Homo sapiens: one gene and its partner. The protein of the gene in region 1 purifies or fractionates together with the protein of each later gene. This does not show direct contact. Each region holds a gene or a part of one and is shown on either strand. Other genes may lie near its edges.

Region 1 (3,822 bases):
CACTCTCGTTGTATACATTCTCTTCTAGTCCTTACTAGGACTCACTTCCAGATGTGTGTCCATTTCTGACCTCTTCAAAGTTCTCTATATTTCTGCTTGCTGTTCATTTTTGCTTCGTTACTTTGCCACCACTTCAAATTCAACATGTTTAAATCCAGTCCTTCTTCCTCCTGAAACAAGCTGCTTTTGATCTTCTGCATTTCTGTTAGTGGAATTATTGTTTTCTCAGTAAACCCAGTTGGTTCTCACTGCCTCCCCAAATCCCTCAGTTCCCAAGTCCTGACAGTTTTTTGTTGCCTTCTTTACCTCTGTCCTTGCCCCTTCCTCTTCATTCCTGCCACCTCATCCTTAAGCTTATCATCTCATGCCTAAAAGTACTAGAACAGCTCTTACATAGTCTTCCTGTCTGCCCCATCCACCTTGCCTACCCAAATAGATTAACAAAAATACCTGTCACAGCATTGCCCTCTGGCCAGAAACCTTTAACAATACCCAGCTGCCTATAGCTGCGTAAGAGCTACCTGGGATGTTTGTTTAAAATGCATATAGAGGCGGGTGCGGAGGCTCCAGCCTGTAATCCCAGCACTTTGGGAGGTCGAGGTGAGCGGATCACCTGAGGTCAGGAGTTTGAGACCAGCCTGGCCAATATGGTGAAACCCACCTCTACTAAAAATACAAAAATTAACTGGGTATGGTGGTGTACGACCGTAGTCCCAGCTATTTGGGAGGCTGAGTTGAGAGCATCAGTTGAGCCTGGGAGGCAGAGGTTGCAGTGAGCTGAGATCACGCCATTGCACTCCAGCCTGGGTGACAGAGCTTGATTCTGTTTCTAAATAATAAAATGCAGATAGAGGACAGCTTGGTGGCTCATGCCTGTAATCCCAACACTTTGGAAGGCCGAGGTGGGAGGATCACTTGAGTCTAGGATTTTGAGACCAGCCAGGGCAACACAGTGAAACTCCATGTCTACAAAAAATAAAAAAATATTAGCCGGGTGTGGTGATGCACATCTATAGTTCCAGCTACTCAGGAGGATGAGATGGGAGGATCACATGAGCCCTGGAGGTTGAGGCCACAATGAGCCATGATTGTGCCACTGCACTGGGTGGCTGCCTGGGTGACAGAGTGAGACACTGTCTTAAAAAAAATATTGCAGGCCAGGTGCGGTGTCTCACGCCTGTAATCCCAGCACTTTGGGAGGCCGAGGTGGGTGGATCACAAGGTCAGGAGTTCAAGACCAGCTTGGCCAACATGATGAAACCCAGTCTCTACTAAAAATACAAAAATCAGCTGGGCGTGGTGGCACACACCAGTAATCCCAGCTACTCGGGAGGCTGAGGCAAGAGAATCGCTTGAACTTGGGAGTTGGAGGTTGCAGTGAGCTGAGATCGCACCACTGCACTCCAGCCTGGGTGACAGAGCAAGACTCCGTCTCAAAAAAAAAAAACAAAAAAAAATTGCAGTTATTTGGGTTGGGAGTGAAGCCTGTTTCAACATTTTAACCCAAATCAGCATTTTATCAAGCTCTCCAGGCAGGTGGTTCTTAGAAAACAGTGCCTAAGGTTGGCCCACAAATTACAATCTAGACTCCTTAACTTAGGTTGGAGCCCTCTCCACTCCCAACCCCAGGCTCCTCCCGTAGGAAAGCCCTTCTTTCCAGCAAATCAGGTTTCTTGGTACTGTTCATCAAGTCTTAGGCTCACCCAGTTCTGTGTTTTTTGCAGTCAGTGTCTCCTCTCCCTTTAATATGTCCTCCCACCTTCTATCCTGGTTTTGAATATATTATAAAGCTCCTTACAGTTCCTCTATCACTCTGGTCTATGCTGGACATACACATTTGTTTATGTCTGCCTTTTCAACCAGATTATAAACTCACGGAGGGAGAGAGTTTACCTGAGTGTCCCCCTCCCCTTCTTTGGTCTCCTGTGGTGCCTTGCCTAATAGTTTCTAGACAGTGACTATTTGGCTAAATGATTTCAAAGAAATCTCTTTATGACTCTTTGTTTTGATGGGTCAGTGTGAAATGGCAAAATTCTCCACACAAGGCACTTAGAGCTTAAAGAGCTAAATAGTCTAAAATGCGATGTGTGAATTTTGCTATAATCTGTCAACAGTGCCTTTTATGAAGTTGATTTCTGAATAAGAAAGCATTAAGAATTTTACTTGTGTTACTTTTTGAATGTGGGATAAAACTCATTGTTACTAAAGCAGGAATGAACAACTTCTCCAGTTTTGAAATCACATGACAGTTTCTGCTAATGTAAGATAACCAAGTAGCATGATTCAGCTACTTTCTTGCTTAAATCGCGTAGTTAGCCAATTGAGCAACTGTGGTGTTTTTAGCAATGGTTTTGTATAGAGTTTAACCCTTTAAATCTTTCAGTGAAGCCTATAGAACAGCCTTGAATTTGGGTGTCACTATAATTATAATTCTTCTGATGAATATGGAATAAATTCAGGGTTTCAGAAAAAGAATATTGAAATAATTTTTACCAAGTCAGTTCATTTTAAATATGAACCCCCGCACCCCCTTTGGGGAGTGGTCAGGATACTTTCCAAGTATTATTTTCCCCTGAGTGGAAGGTGATGTTTTATGATTCATTGTTTCGTGGAAGACCAGTCAAGCTCTAGGGACATCATGTATGCAACTTTTGAAATTTATTACCTCTCCAGAAACCATATTTCACATGAGAGGATCTTCATTTTCTCTCTATAGGAGAATCCATATGCTACACTGACCATGACTTTGGCACAGACCAACTTCTGCAAGAAACATGGATTTGATCCACAAAGTCCCCTTTGTGTTCACATAATGCTGTCAGGAACTGTGACCAAGGTAAGTAGTTATCCTACAGGAAGGGAGATGGTTTCAGAACACCATCGTATTCACAATGAAAGAATAGATCATTTTTCTTTTGAGACAGAGTCTCACTCTGTCTCCCAGGCTGGAGTGCAGTGGTGTGATCTCGGCTTACTGCAACCTCTGCCTCCTGGGTTCAAGCGAGTCTTGTGCCTCAGCCTCCCTAGTAGCTGGGATTACAGGCACGCACCACCACACCCAGCTAATTTTTGTATTTTTAGTAGAGATGGGGTTTCACCATGTTGGCCAGGCTGGTCTTGAACTCCTGACCTCAAGTGATCCACCCACCTCGACCTCCCAAAGTGCTGAGATTACAGGCGTGAGCCACTATGCCTGGCAGAATAGATCTTTTCAGAATGAAATGCAGTTGATTTGTGATTGCCATGCCCAGTCAGAACATGTTCTATTCTAATAGGTGAAGTAATTCCATGAAAACCAAACGTTTTAATAAGTTGCTTTCATATAGGTGTTAAATAAGATATGACAAAAATGAATGATTTTCTGAAGCCAAGCAGATGTAACAACTATGAAGCTCCTGTATATAAAGTTATTCTTACTAAAGAGCATCTGGTTGACCAAAGCCCTCTACTCTCCATTACATTTTACATTGGTATAATGTTTTTCCATGTCTGGGCTCCTTGTCTCCATATTTTAACAGTGGCTTAAAGCAGAGAAAACATATTAAGTAGGCCAACCAGAGGACTATCCATTACTGAAAACTGGAAGTGAATTTAGTTTGGATCACCTGCTGAAGGGAAGAGGTCAAATACAATCTCAGGAAGAGCAGTGGGCATGGTGTCAGGAGTGCTGATCTGATTACCCAGCCAGCAGATTTGCTTTTTGACCGTGTCAATCATTAATGCCTCAGACAAGTGTTATTTATGGTCTGTAAATTCTTTGTGGATGCATCTCTGTAGTTGAGTGTCCTTCACTGGCAGGAAAAAGATGGAGGAGCAGCACAT
Region 2 (2,920 bases), on another chromosome or scaffold:
TAGATCTGAGGCCTTTAAGAAAAATGCTCAGAAACAATCATCCTACCCAGTGCTAAATATCAGATGAGTCAGCCTCTGGGCAGCTGTCACCTTCCTCCCCCAAATTCCCTGGCAAAGCAGGGAGGCTGGCTTGGGGCTGCCTCTCTGACTCTGACAGCAGTTGGAACCCACAGCTACCCTGCGGTCCCCCTCTTGCCCCCAATCCCAGGATGCTCGCTTCCATTTTACTCTACTTTTAGGGAAGGAGCCAGGGATGGGCCTCAGTGTTCCCTCCCTACTCCCGAAGGGACAGTATTTGTCCCCAGTCCTTTCTCCTGCCGATGCTTTTGGATTTAGGAAGTGATGCCTTGAGGACATGGGCATCTCCCACCCTTCGTGCTCACCCTCGCAATAGTGGATGTGCCTGGAGGGTACATTTCTGAAGAACTACCAGAGCTGAGAAGAAAAAGCAGACTGCATAGCTTAGCGCAGATTCACGCAAAGCCACTTGTGCATTCCAGAGCCAGGGCCATGTGGTTCGGCCCACATGTTGGCAGTAAGCATGTTGTTCCAGCCAGGTGAGTCAGCAGACATGGGATGTTCGTTTATTTGGGCAAATGTGTCTCGTTAGGGTCATTCTGAAAAGAAGCCCAGTGTGCAGTCATTAGCCCCTGGGGTAGCGTTGCTACTAAGTGGTTGGGGAGAAGTCAGGGAAGAGGAAGAGGTGGCGTTCCCCAGCCTCACCCGTGGAGACCCCAGCGAAGCGGGGGCAGGCAGGCACTGCTGGAGGAGCGAAGGCCAGGTGGACACGAGGACAGATTCCAGAGGCTTGGTTTTATTGTGCAGTTTTCTTTGTCCTCAATGAGATGCCATAAGCTGTGGTGGCACTATACACAGTCACAGAACAGGAAGAACCACCGGGTGGGGGCTGGGGGTTGGGAAAAGCCATTTCCTGAGAAGTGTCCGGCTCCTGGGTCTCACTCCATGGCTTGCCTCAGGCCCCGCAGAAGTCCCTGAGAAGGCAGGCCTGCGGGGCAGGGGGCTGTCTGAGGGGCTCAGGCACCAGCCAGCAGGGGCTGGCACTGATGGGCGAGGGGAGGAAGTGCCTCCCTTAGAAACTTGGGCCAAACCCTGTGCAGCTCTGGGACTCCACCCCACCTGACTTGGAGGCTGTGGGTCAGAGCTCTGGAAGCTCTTGGGAGCTTGGGACAGCCTGAGAGGGTCTTGTCCTCCTTTGTAGCCCTCTCCACTGTGGGTGGAGGCAGGGAGGGGCAGCAGGGCCATGCTTTTAGCTTCCTTAGGCAGGGAGGGATGATGAACCCTCATCCTTTACCTCCTTCTCCAACCCTCCACTAGCGCTGCTTTCCTGGTCAAACCTGCATCTTCACTGGGTCATGCCCCAAGGCCTCTGAGGGACTTCCACAGTGGTAAGGAGGGCTGCCCTTTTTATTTTTTTTTGGTTGTGGCTGAGAATGCTGGAGATGCTCAGTTCTCTCCCTCACAAGGTAGGCCACAAATTCTTGGTGGTGCCCTCACATCTGGGGTCTTCAGGCACCAGCCATGCCTGCCGAGGAGTGCTGTCAGGACAGACCATGTCCGTGCTAGGCCCAGGCACAGCCCAACCACTCCTCATCCAAGTCTCTCCCAGGTTTCTGGTCCCGATGGGCAAGGATGACCCCTCCAGTGGCTGGTACCCCACCATCCCACTACCCCTCACATGCTCTCACTCTCCATCAGGTCCCCAATCCTGGCTTCCCTCTTCACGAACTCTCAAAGAAAAGGAAGGATAAAACCTAAATAAACCAGACAGAAGCAGCTCTGGAACAAAAAGTACAAAAAGACAGCCAGAGGTGTGCGGAGAGGGTGAGGTGGCCGCGTGGACGTGGGTAGATAATCGCATGCAGCACTGGAACTCCTGATGAGGGGTGGGGTCCCCACTTCTCCTCAAGGTTTGAGGGATTGGGGGGAGGGGGTCAGCTGACTCAGAGAAGTAGGATCTCTGCACTGGAACTTGAGGCTTCCTGTCTCCTCCATGGGCCCCACCAGTCACAGGGACATGAAATCCGTGGCCTGGAGGAGGGAGAGGGAGAGCAGGAGCAGCAGCAGCCACGAGGTGTTCTGAGCCAGCAGGCTGATGCCCTCACACTTGACCAGTTTGTCTGCAGAAAGAGAAGGGGGCCGGGGGCAGGGTAGGAAGGAAGACGGATCAGGACTCAGGCAGGCACAGGCCCAAAGCAAGGGTGTACTCCCTTTGGGAGGTGGGTACTGCAATGTCTTAGCTGGGACCAGGAACAGCCCGGTCTCACAGAACCAGCCATCTTTCCCATTTGCAGATTACTGATCTCTTGCACACATATCATCTTATGAAAACCTTACTAAACATCATGACAAGAAAACTGGCTGAGGGAGGTGGTGTCATCCCTGTTTTCCCGCTGGGAGAAGGAAGATTAGGGAGGCCAAAGGCCTTGCCCACAGTTCTGGTGGAACCACACTGCTCTGCCTGTCTGGCCCTGAGCTCTTCACCCCATTCACACCGAAGGCAATGGTTCCCCAGTTGACCAGGCAGCAGTTGGGAGAGGGTGAGAGCGTTATGGGGCTATTCTCCTCTCTAGTCCAGCCAAGGGAACTGCCTGCTGTCCCCGAGCCTGGCTCTCCCAGCTCACTTGACCTTGTTAGGGGCTTGTCTCACCTCTGAGCACTGTGACGTTCTGGGAGGAGATGGGTGGGGAATGGCCAGAGTGGTGGAGTGCACACGTGTAGGTGCCCTCGTCCTTGCTAGTGAAGGCGGATAAGTAGAGGACCTTCATGTTGTATTTGCTGGTGAAGTTGGTTCGGGAGCGGTATGTGTGCTCAGGCACCCCCACAGTGCCAAAGAGCACGTGCTTCTTTGTCTCACGGGTCAGGCTGAACTCGTACTGGATGGGTGAACTGCTGGTATTCT

Evidence for each region.
Region 2: the proteins of CREG1 (region 1) and THY1 purify together in Homo sapiens (co-immunoprecipitation; one large-scale study listed by IntAct). This does not show direct contact.

The regions. Positions count from the first base shown.
Region 1 is NC_000001.11:167,547,016-167,550,837, reverse strand, and holds part of CREG1 (protein CREG1 precursor), read left to right. Parts: intron 1-2,716; coding exon 2,717-2,836; intron 2,837-3,822.
Region 2 is NC_000011.10:119,417,383-119,420,302, forward strand, and holds part of THY1 (thy-1 membrane glycoprotein isoform 1 preproprotein), read right to left. Parts: coding exon 2,669-2,920; intron 2,139-2,668; coding exon 2,026-2,138; 3' UTR 1-2,025. UniProt on the Homo sapiens protein: May play a role in cell-cell or cell-ligand interactions during synaptogenesis and other events in the brain.